Regions from separate parts of the Homo sapiens genome. Here region 1 is linked to region 2. Evidence: fine-mapped expression QTL. A gene starts in region 2. The other region holds a variant in brackets. All regions are shown on one strand. Distances are between the middles of the regions.

Region 1 (5,368 bases), 120 kb after region 2:
TCATGCACGCTCAGTCCCAATGTCACGACGTGTCCTCATCATTTGGGATGCACTGACATCGTGAGGGTCCCCAGCCCCTCTTGCCCGGAGCAGCCCCATGAGTCCCTTGTGCCAGACGAGCCTTGTGATCACTGTCCGGCACCTGAAATCCCCACAGTCCCAGGCCCTGAGCACTGGCGGCTGAACCTTCCCAGCAATGCTGGCTGTGTTAGGAGCAAGGCCTCTAAAATCAGCCTCTGGGCTGCTTTTGAAATGGACTGGGTCCTCCTCATTTCTAGAAGGCTGGGAGCATCACTGCTGTTCTGTGCTTGGCTAGCAGGTGTCTACAAGGACTTCAACATCAAGAGTTCAGAAAGACCTCCTGAAGAGATCACAGTTTTACAGAAAAGTCAGGCAGAGATGGTTGTGTTTAATCTTTTTCTTTTTTCCATAGCTCACTGCAACCTTGAACTCCTGGGTTCAAGGGATCCCCCCACCTCAGCCTCTTGAATAGCTGGGACCATAGGCACATACCACCATTGCTAATTTTTTTCTTTTCTTTTTTCTTTTTAGAGACGGGGGTCTCACTATGTTGCCCAGGCTGGTGTTGAACTAGCCTCAAGTGACCCTCCTCCCTCAGCCTCCCAAAGCACTGGGATTGTAGGCATGAGCCAGTGCGCCCGGTCATATTTAGTCTTTTTAGGGAGCAGTTTGTGGGTGCTTGGGATCACCTTCCTAGGCTTGCCTCTTCGTCTGGAGCCTGGTGACATTGGTTGTGCAGCATTAAAGAGGAAGTGTGGGGCTGGGCTTGGTGGCTCACACCTGTAATCCCAGCACTTTGGGAGGACGAGCCAGGTGGATTACCTGAGTTCAGGAGTTCAAGACCAGCCAGACCAACATGGCAAAACCCCATCTCTACTAAAAATACAAAAATTAGCTGGACACGGTGGTGCATGCCTATAATCCCAGCTACTCAGTAGACTGAGGCAGGAGGATCGCTTGAACCCATGAGGTGGAGGTTGCAGTGAGCCGAGATTGCACCACTACACTCCAGCCTGGGCAACAAGAGCGAAACTCTGTCTCAAAAAAAAAAAAAGGAAGTGTGAGACAAGCTCAAGGGGCTGTGAGCTGCCCTTTCAGTAGCAGCAGCTGACCTCAGAGGGGAACCATTTCTTCCTGTGCATCTTTTACAACCAAGTTCTGCTCGGTGCTTGTTGGAGCTAGTAAGAAATTCTTACATATTCTTTTAAATAAAGAAGGTGACTTTGAACACTTTCCTTCAGTGACACTCCTGGAGAGAGAGCATTTCCTCTATACCTGGACCCCCAGTGTGGCTCAGGGAAGAAATAAACTCCCTACCTCTGTGACTGTCTTCCTCAGCTCAGTGTCTGGCCTTCCTTGATTTGTTGACTAGTTGGGGTTTGCAGAGAAGCCTCTGGCTTTGTGCTTATTTGAAGATACAAAATTTAGCACTGCAGAGCCACCACTTTTTCTTGGCATCTGAATCTCAGCTCCACCTGGCAGCTGCTCGTGGCACTTGCGACATGCCTCGAGGGGAAAGTGCCTGCTCAGGAGGTAGCTGAGACTTGCCATCCCTGCACCCGCCATGTGCCCTCGCTTGAGTCCCCAGTTCACATTAGGGTTCCCCATTGGTGTTGCGCGTCTGCCGGTCTGGACGTGTCTCCTCCGTTAGCGCATCAGACAGAGTGTGATTTCATTGCCCGAAAAGTCCTCCGTGCTCCGTCTGTTCGTCCCTCTCTGAGGTGCTTTCAGTGGAAAGCCCCCTAGCTGCTGTGGGAAGAATGGGGGGAGGGGTTCCCTGATGTGGCCTCCCCCGGCCTCGCTGCAGCTTTCTCCCTTGTTTCACAGTGCTGGCCTACATGCAGTTGCTGGAGGACTACTCGGAGCCGCAGCCCTCTATGTTCTACCAGACGCCACAGAACGAGCACATCTACCAGCAGAAGAACAAGCTCCTCATGGAGGTATACGGCTTCAGCGACTCCTTCAGTGGGGTGGACTCCGTGCAGGAGCTGGCCCCGCCGCCCGCCCTACCCCCCAAGCAGCGGCAGCTGGTGAGTGACACCTTCCCTTGTGACTAGAACTTCCGATCCTAGCAGGTCTCTAGGAACCAGAATGACCCTCCTTGGGGGCAGGGTTAACCCTCCTCCCTGCTGTGGCAGGGCCCTGGTTTTGGGCGTGGAAGGCACCATCTCCCACACAGATGCTTTTACTTCCTCCTTAGATGCTCACCAGCAGCCCAGCGCCCACTCCACCACCTCCCCACCCTGGGGTGCAGGGACCTTTCTTTTCCACAGCAGCCCCGCGCAGCAGGGACAGGCTTGTACTCAGGGTGTTTGCTCTCTCTGCTGACAGTCTCTTGTATTTTTTTCTTTCTTCTTTGGCTTCAACATAGACCTCCCAGAAAGGAGGGACTCAATCAAAGCACAGGACATGGTCTGTGCACAGCCATCTGTGGACTTGATTGGCATAATGGGCCTAACTGTGTAGAGTGACTTACAACCCAGCCTTGGCCGGGGAGGGCCCAAGGAAAACAAGTGCCATTGAAGTGGAGGATGGCTTTAAACAGAGCCACTCTGTTTCAGACATGGCACCTTCCTCTTCTAGAAAACACTCGTGTGCTAAGGACTCCTGTGCATGTAAGGAAGCACGGGCCAGCACAGAAGGCAAGCTGTTCCACCGTGGGCACCCCATGAGGCTCTGGAACTGCCCAGGCACTGGGAGGGTGAGCAGATCGGGGGTACCTGTGGCATCCCTCCAAACTTTCTCCCTTTGCTGCCAGTTAATGAACATGGAGGGCCCTAGTCAGGTTTGAAGATCTGAGCCTCTTGTCCAGCCATGCTCCCCAGGAAGAGGAAGCTCCCCAGCAGGGAGCTCCAGGCTTGTTCAGAGCTGCCTGGGCTGCTGCTCTCGTGTGCTGGCCAGTCTGGTGGCTTCTACCAGGAGGCGACTGGTGTGCACTGGGCCATCTTTTATCCATTGCGAGAGGACATGAGGGGCCATCTGATTCTTCTGGGAGGCAGCTGCAGACTGGAGGACAAATGTCCCTGGATTACTCCGTATAATCAATCACCTGGGGCTCAGCCCAGTCCCAGGAGTTCCTGAGCCTTCCTATACTCAGTGGGCTGTGGCTAACCAAGCAAGCTGTTTTGTTTCCACTCAAAAACCACACTCAGCCACTTCAGAGGTGGCCATGTCCAGTAGAGGAAAGGCCAAGCTTGGAGTTGGGAGTCCTGAATTCCAGTCCTGCCACTTGTTAGCCGTGTC[G/A]CACGTGCCATTTTCAGAGTCTCAGATCCTCACCTGCCCTGCCCGTCCCACAGACACAATTGAGAATGTGAATCTCAATTGCTCTGAAGATGTTTCAAAAAGGGTCCCACCATGGAAACATAAATGCCTCATTTAGAGACCCCTTGCCTAAAATGTTTGGTTAGAACTGTTGCCGAGAGCCAGGAGTGGTGGTGGCACATGCCTATATTCCCAGCTACTTGGGAGGCTGAGGTGGAGGATCACTTGATCCCAGGAGTTCAAGACCAGCCTGGACAACATAGTGAGACCCTGTCTAAAAAAAAAAAAAAGCCATTGCTGAGCCAGATTTATTGAAAATATTTTCGGCCCATTTGCCATCCTTGGGCATCTTCTCCATACTGTGGAGTCCACAGGCTTCTGAATATTTGGGGAGACACCCCTAGGGAGCACGTGGAATCAGAACCTGTTCTACCACGCCTGCAGGGCAGTGGCGAGCTCAGCCCCCGGAGGCCTGTTAGGAACATCTGTGTTGAACACCTCCCCAGGTAAGCACCAGGGCTCTCATCTGGCTCTACATGGTCCCTGCCACAGCTCCTGGCATCCCCATTATAAGTAAATTGAGGCAGACAGAGCCAGCGAACCTTAATCCAAGCCCACAGCTAGAAACAGAAGACCTGGGAGCCACACCCAATCCTAATGACAGCCCAGGCATACCACCTGACAGGTCCTGCCAGCTGCTGGTCACACCCTCTCTCAAATGCAGATGCAGGAAGCGTTATCCACACTTCACAGACAAAAATGGTGCTCATTACACACACCTGTTGGCCCATGTACAGTGTGGTAAGCAATATTTCAAGTGCTTCACACGTATCATCCCATTTCATCCTCCCAACAGCCCTGTACAGGAGACACTAGGGTTATCCCCATTTTACAGATGGAAAACCTGAGGCACGGAGACCTTTAAGTAGTGCCCAAGGCCAAACGGGTGAGAAATGGCAGGGTCCAGACTCAAACCCAGGCTGCCGGAGCCCCGTCTGAGTTCTGAAGACGTGTGAATGACACATGGATCCACTCCCCACAGAGGAGCAGCTCCAAGCCCAGAGTCAGCCCAGTTCTGTGTGGCTCCAGCCCCCTCGTCCTCCTTCCACCCAACCTGCTTCCAGTGGACACAATTTTTAGGATCTAGTGTAAGGAAATGAAGGAGGGTGCCCTTTCATGCAGATGGCCTTCGGCAGCTGGTTTTAGTCCCTGAACTGGGCCCAGAAGCCATCCCTCTCCAGAACGTCTGTTAGAGGATGTGGAGAGCAACCTCCACGGCCTTTCCCTGCACGGACCTGACTGTTCTCTGCTTCTCTCCCTCCTTCCCTGCCTTCTCTCTCCTCCCCTCTGTCCAGCAGGCCTCCTGTGCTGCTTCTTCCTTCTCCTCTGTCTCCCACTGTGTCCAGCAAACTAAAGTGGCCTTCACCCCCGAGGACGGCAGTGCCGCTCAGGGCCTCAGTGTGTCCGTCTCTAACTCCTTTCTCAGCCGGCACGGCAGCTTGCCCGTGCCCTCGGTGAGTTGCTCCCTGCTGTTCTTTACTTGGAAACGCGTGAACAGGGCCGTTCCTTGGAAGCGTGTGCCTCAGCCATGTGTTCTGCTGCCCGTCGCGGCCCCTGCCCTTCTGCGGGTCCCTACACCTAGATGGGAAGGCTATGAATGGTTGGTTCTCTGGGGCCTTAAAGACCATGAGGCATCCAGGTGAGGCAGGGGCAGGCATGGGAAATGTGAGTGGCCACCTTGGGAGCATCACCAGTCTGGCATAAACTGACAGAGACATTTTAGCCTTTTTATCCCAATCTCGCTTTGGACCTTGGATCAGCCCTCTGTGTTCCAGGATTAAAAAGGAATATAGCCAGGTGTGGTGTCACTCACCTGTAGTCCCCACTCCTCAGGAGGCTGAGACAGGAGGATCACCTGAACTCCAGAGTTCAAGTCCAGCCTGGGCAACATAGTGAAACCCTGTCTCAAAATAAATAGATAAGATAGATGAGATGGATGAGTAGATGGGTGGTACTATTCCTCACGTAGAAAGCCAGGTCGAGGAGAGCAGGCTTCACTAGCGCAGGATGGTTTGACTCTCAGGGA
Region 2 (5,368 bases):
CAAGTGGAGAGGAGGGGAGGGAACATTCTAGACAGCAGGAGCAGCTCATGAGAAGGTTCCAAGTCAGCCAGAACTGGGCTTTGGGAATCCGTTTGCTTCATTACCTTGTGTGTGTTCTACTATAGTTATAAACATCTTTGATGAATAGCCTTTATTAAGTAAGTTCTGTGACCCTGATTTACCATAATGTCCATTTGCAAAGTACTTTGTTGTTTGCAAATCTTTTGTCATTGGATATGTCATAATTTATTAAATATATTTGTGTTCTCACAAACCCCTGACTGCACCTAGTATCCATGCAGTCTAGTTTTCTACTTTTCAACCAGGATTTTGGATTTAAAATATCGGCTCTTCTCAGCTCAGAAGCCTAGAAGGGTTGGGGGCAGCATTGAGTGTGTTTTGGGGTTGGGCCTGGGACCAGGGGCCAGTTTTGCCTGGTAAGGCATCTGCCAAGAGGGCTGAACAGGGCCACCCTGGATCAGAGCATCCATTCATCAGGTGGAAGAGGGAAATGAATTTGTCAATCTTTGGATTTGCCTTTGACCTCTAGAGGGCTGCAACTGATGAAATGATGATGGGAAATTTGGCTGCCATCTATGACCATCTCCTTTTTTTTTTTTTTAAAGAGGGAGTCTCGCTCTGTCACCCAGGCTGGAGTGCAGTGGCGCGATCTTGGCTCCCTGCAACCTCTGCCTCCCAGGTTCAAGTGATTCTCGTGCCTCAGCCTCCTGAGTAGCTGGGACTACCAGCGCGCACCACCACGCCCGGCTATTTTTTGTATTTTTAGTAGAGATGGGGTTTCACCATGTTGGCCAGGCTGGTCTCGAACTCCTGAACTCAGGTGATCTACCCACCTCGGCCTCCCAAAGTGCTGGGATTACAGGTGTGAGCCACCACACCCGGCCTGACTAGCTCTTAGTTGTGGAATCGGTGACCCTTTAGACTGTCCAGGGAGATGGGAATAAGAATCTCTCACAACATTAGCAGTTTTTCCTCCTCCCTGCACCTCCCCCAAATCCTGTCCCCATCACTAGGTTATTTAATTTACTTATTTTGGGGGAAACAGGAGGGAAAACTAGCCCAGGTGGTGCGTGCTACTTCTTTGTATTCCATCTTAGACTAACAACAGGAAGCAGGCAGCAGAATTGCCCCACATTGGAACATCACTTGCGTTACTAATTTGTTGTTATTTACTACTTGTATTATAGGATTTAACTTTGACTTCCCAGCTAAGTTGTGAACTCTTTGGAGGGAAGCACCAATTGTGCCCACTTTTGTAGGGCCCACAGAACCCGAAATAGTGCTTAGACTTAGCAGATCCTTTGATTCTTAAATGACTTTTTTTTTCCTTTTTTTTTTTTTTTTTTTTAGCCAGGGTCTTCCTCTGTCACTCAGGCTGGAGTGCAGTGGTGCAATCATGACTCCCTGAAACCTCTGCCTCCAGGGCTCAAGTGATTCTCCCTCATCAGCCTCTCAAGTAACTGGGACTACAGGCAGGTGCCGCCGTGCCTGGCTAATTTTTGTATTTTTAGTAGAGACGGAGTTTCACACATTGCCCAGGCTGGTCTCGAACCCCTGGGCTCAAGTCATCCACCCACCTCAGCCTCCCAAAGTGCTGTGATTGCAGCCGTGAGCCACTGTGCCCAACCACGACTTTTTTTTTTTTTTTGAGACGGAGTCTCGCTCTGGAGCCACCAGGCTGGAGTACAGTGGCATGATCTCGGTTCACTGCAACCTCCATGTCCTGGGTTCAAGAGATTCTCCTGCCTCAGCCTCCCAAGTAGCTGGGACTACAGGCGTGTGCCACCATGCCCACCTAATTTTTGTATTTTTAGTAGAGATGGGGTTTCACCATGTTGGCCAGGATGGTCTCAATCTCTTGACCTCGTGATCCACCTGCCTCGGCCTCCCAAAGTGCTGGGATTACAGGCGTGAGCCACCGTGCCCAGCCACGACTTTTAATGAACTCATTTCCACACTAGAAAAGTTCCACAGCTGAGCCCCAGGGTGCCCTTCTGGATGTCAAATAAGCAGGGCAGGCAGGGTGTGCTGTGTCCCTGAGGGAGTTGGGCCCAGGCCAGCATGGAGGCTCTAGGCCTCAGGGGACATTTAGGCCTGAGTAGGGCCAACCCCAGCCCGGGACAGGTGGCTCTCGCTGGCAGGGTGACTGAGTCCCACATGCAGGGCTGGGGTGGAGAATGAATCCTCCGCCTTGGCATAGACCTTGGGCCAGCAGAGGGCTTTCATGCCAGAGTGGACTCATTCCCCGGCTGGAGCCTCTGGGCTGGCAGGAGGTGCTATGAGGCCACTCCCAGGCCCTGGTGTGGGGTCTCCAATTAAGAAGGGGGTGCGGGCAGGGTGCAGTGGTTCACACCTGTAATCCCAGCACTTTGGGAGGCCAAGGTGGGTGGATCATGAGGTCAGAAGATCGAGACCAGCCTGGCCAACATGGCGAAACCCCGTTTCTACTAAAAATACAAAAATTAGCTGGGCATGGTGGCATGTGCCTGTAATCCCAGCTACTCAGGAGGCTGAGGCAGGAGAATTGCTTGAACCCGGCAGGCAGAGGTTGCAGTGAGTCGAGATCGCGCCACTGCTCTCCAGCCTGGCGACAAAGTGAGACTCGGTCTCAAAAACAAAAAACAAAACAAAAAAGGGGGTGCTGCATCTCTGGTTTGGGGGAGGTCAGGACAGGCTCCCAGCCAGCAGAGCTTGTTGAGTCCTGGTGAGAGTGAGTTCTAGGCCCTGGTGTGGAGCCTCTGGCCCACAGGGGATGCTGGGTCCGGGATGATGCTAGGGTGGGGTGGGCGTCAGTTCCACGTCCTGGGGTGGAAAATCTGACCCAGGAGGGTTCTCTGTGTCTCTGGTGAGGGGGCAGGCCAGGCTCTTGGGCAACCGAGGACCCTGGGTTGGAGCTGTCAGTCCCAGGTCTGGAGCTGGTGACTCTGGTCCCACAGCAGAGGAATGCGGAGTCCCAGGCGGGGTCGGCCCCACACCCCAGGCCCCAGGCCCCGGCGTGGGGACTCCGGCTCGGCAGGGGGCGCTGCGTCTCGCGCGTCGCGCGGGAGGCTCGGGCGGCTCCGGGCCCACAGGGGGCGCTGTGGCGGCGCGGCGGGCGCCCGGCAGGTGGCGCTGTGGCCGTGGCCGCGGCCGAGGCCCGGCGGGCGGGCGGGCGGCGTCGCTGCGCTGCGGCCGGCTCGCGGGCCGGGGGAGCGGCGGCGGGCGCGCGGGAGGCGGAGCGGCGGCGGCGGGCGCGGCGGGAGCGGCTGGGCCCGGGCGGGCTGGAGCGCGGTCGCCGAGCGCAGGGCCGCGGCCGCGCGGAGCCCGCCATGCCGGCGCGGGTCTGAGGCGTGGCGAGCCAGGGCCGAGGCGAGCGGCGGGCGCGCCGCCCCTGTCGCCCCGCGGCGGCCCGGCCCGGGCCCGATGAGCGGCGGCCTCGGCCTCCGGCGCAGCCCGGAAATGTCCGGCAAGATCGAGAAAGCAGGTGAGGCGCGGGCGTGGGGCGGCTCCCTCCGGCCGGGCCCGGCCCTGGGGCTCCGCCGCTCCCCGGGCCGAGCGCGGGTCGCCCGGGATGTGCGGCCCTCCGTGCGCCGGGGCGGGGTGAAGCCACCGAGGCCTCGCCGGGGCGCCTGGCAGCTTCTCCTCCAGGCCCATTGCCTGCCGGGCGCGGGGGGAAGCGGCCGCTGCGGGGGCGCCAGGGGCCGGGCCGGGCGGGGCCCCTGCAACCCGGGGCCGGGCGCGCTAGCCGCTCCGCGGTCCCCGGGAACTTCCGAAAATGGCTCGAGCCCCAAGCAGGGGAAGAACAGCCCGGGCCGCGTGCTGCTGCGGCTGCAGCGATCGGTGCCCGGCCTGGGCTCGGCGCTAGGAGGGTGAACCCAGCTGAGCTGTAAAATGTGTCATTTCTAACGAGCTTCGAGTTTAACGAGAAGCGTCCACTTCGGTTGCTTCAAAGGAAGCAGGCTGGATGAGTGGGGGTATTTTGAGGAGGTAGTCAAGTTTCCCCTCCCCACCCCGATCAAGCTCAGCTCTGCAAGGAGGGCAGGTGGGGGACCGGTGGGTTGGAGTAGATGGTAAATCTTGATGCAGACCTCGTCTCTTTGTGTGTTCCTAGAAATCTGGGGGAGTTACCTTCCGAGTCCCTGGGTTTGCCTGTCCTGGAAATAGAGTCTCCAAAGATTCAATGACTGTCGAGCCTGTGGGGCCCCAGGCTTTATTAGCCTGCAGCACCTTGCAGGGCAAATGCGAATTCTTGGGTCTAAGGTGAAGTGGGCGGGTGCTCCTGGGCTCCTGTACTGGGAGCATGCCCTGTGGTCATAACCCCGGTAGCAGGTTAGCTTGGCGGCTGAATGAGGGAAAGCAGATTTTTAGGGAGCTGCAAAGGAGGTCTGTGGCTTTGATTGTGGAAGTTGCTTATGTTTCCTGGGTTGAATCTGGGATACTTCTGTGGGGTGCACCCCTGCAGCGGACCCACAAGGCAATATGACTTTTGCAGGCTGTGGTTGAAGCACAGAAGGACATTTTTGTAGGCTTTATTGAGGGTTTACTATATATCTAACTCTTAGCACCTAAAATGCATTGCTTCTTAAATTTTTGAAGCTAGTCTGTGGGAAAGAATATGGTCCCAGTTTTACAGGCTCAGAGAGGTTCAGTGAGTTCCGGCTGTCCAGACAGCAAGAGGGCGGCAGGCCCCTAGTATATTCATTCCTGGCCCTCTGACCAGAAGCCAGGGTGCTTTTCTCAGGGGCAGGGCGCTTGGGTTCAGGTGCCATTTCTTGAGTATTTTTCTCACTGAATTTGAGCCCCCACAGCCTTGCCGAGTGACCATGAGTCGCCATCCTGTACACCTGCTGCTCCAGAAATAACTTGGGTTCATCTGTGCAGCATTTCTCAGGAACTTCTTGTATAGTGTCTTGTCAGAACGGTACTGTTGGGAAACTTGGATAATTTATTTTAAAAAGAACATTCACTGAGTTCTTTTATAAGAACTTTATAATATATAAGATTATATTATATCTTTTTATATCTAATATAAGATTATATTATGTTTTATATCTTTATAATATAAGAATATTCTATGTTCATTGTCAAAACTTGGAAATCACAGAAAAGTAAAATGAACCGGATTGGAAATCATCTGTCAGCCAGGTACAGTGGCTCACGCCTGTAATCCCTGCATTTTGGAAGGCCAAGGCAGGAGGATCACTTGAGCCCAGGAGTTTGAAACAAGCCTGGGCAAAATGGCGAGACCTCATTGCTACTTTAAAAAAAATTTTTTTTTTTTTTTTTGAGACGGAGTCTTGCTCTGTTGCCCAGGCTGGAGTGCAGTGGTGCGATCTCGGCTCACTGCAAGCTCCGCCTCCTCCTGGGT

What was found. PIP is the estimated chance that this variant, and not a neighbour inherited with it, causes the effect. A credible set is the group of variants that fine-mapping cannot tell apart.
Region 1: its variant is the best candidate, but not a certain one, in a credible set for the expression of RAPGEF1 in sun-exposed skin (GTEx, PIP 0.64).

What each region holds. Positions count from the first base shown.
Region 1 is chr9:131,618,479-131,623,846 of GRCh38, reverse strand. It overlaps RAPGEF1 (Rap guanine nucleotide exchange factor 1), which reads left to right. Exons shown (of 27, transcript NM_001377935.1): 11 at 1,849-2,051; 12 at 4,641-4,796. Among named protein-coding and RNA genes, the nearest start is that of PRRT1B, 76 kb to the right of the region's middle. RefSeq lists enhancers at 2,326-2,395, 4,289-5,255. The variant G/A (reference allele first, on the strand shown) is at 3,265.
Region 2 is chr9:131,737,886-131,743,253 of GRCh38, reverse strand. RAPGEF1 (Rap guanine nucleotide exchange factor 1) reads left to right here and starts at 3,178. Exons shown (of 27, transcript NM_001377935.1): 1 at 3,178-3,484. The coding sequence starts at 3,424. RefSeq lists silencers at 2,955-3,214, 3,365-3,414, 3,465-3,794.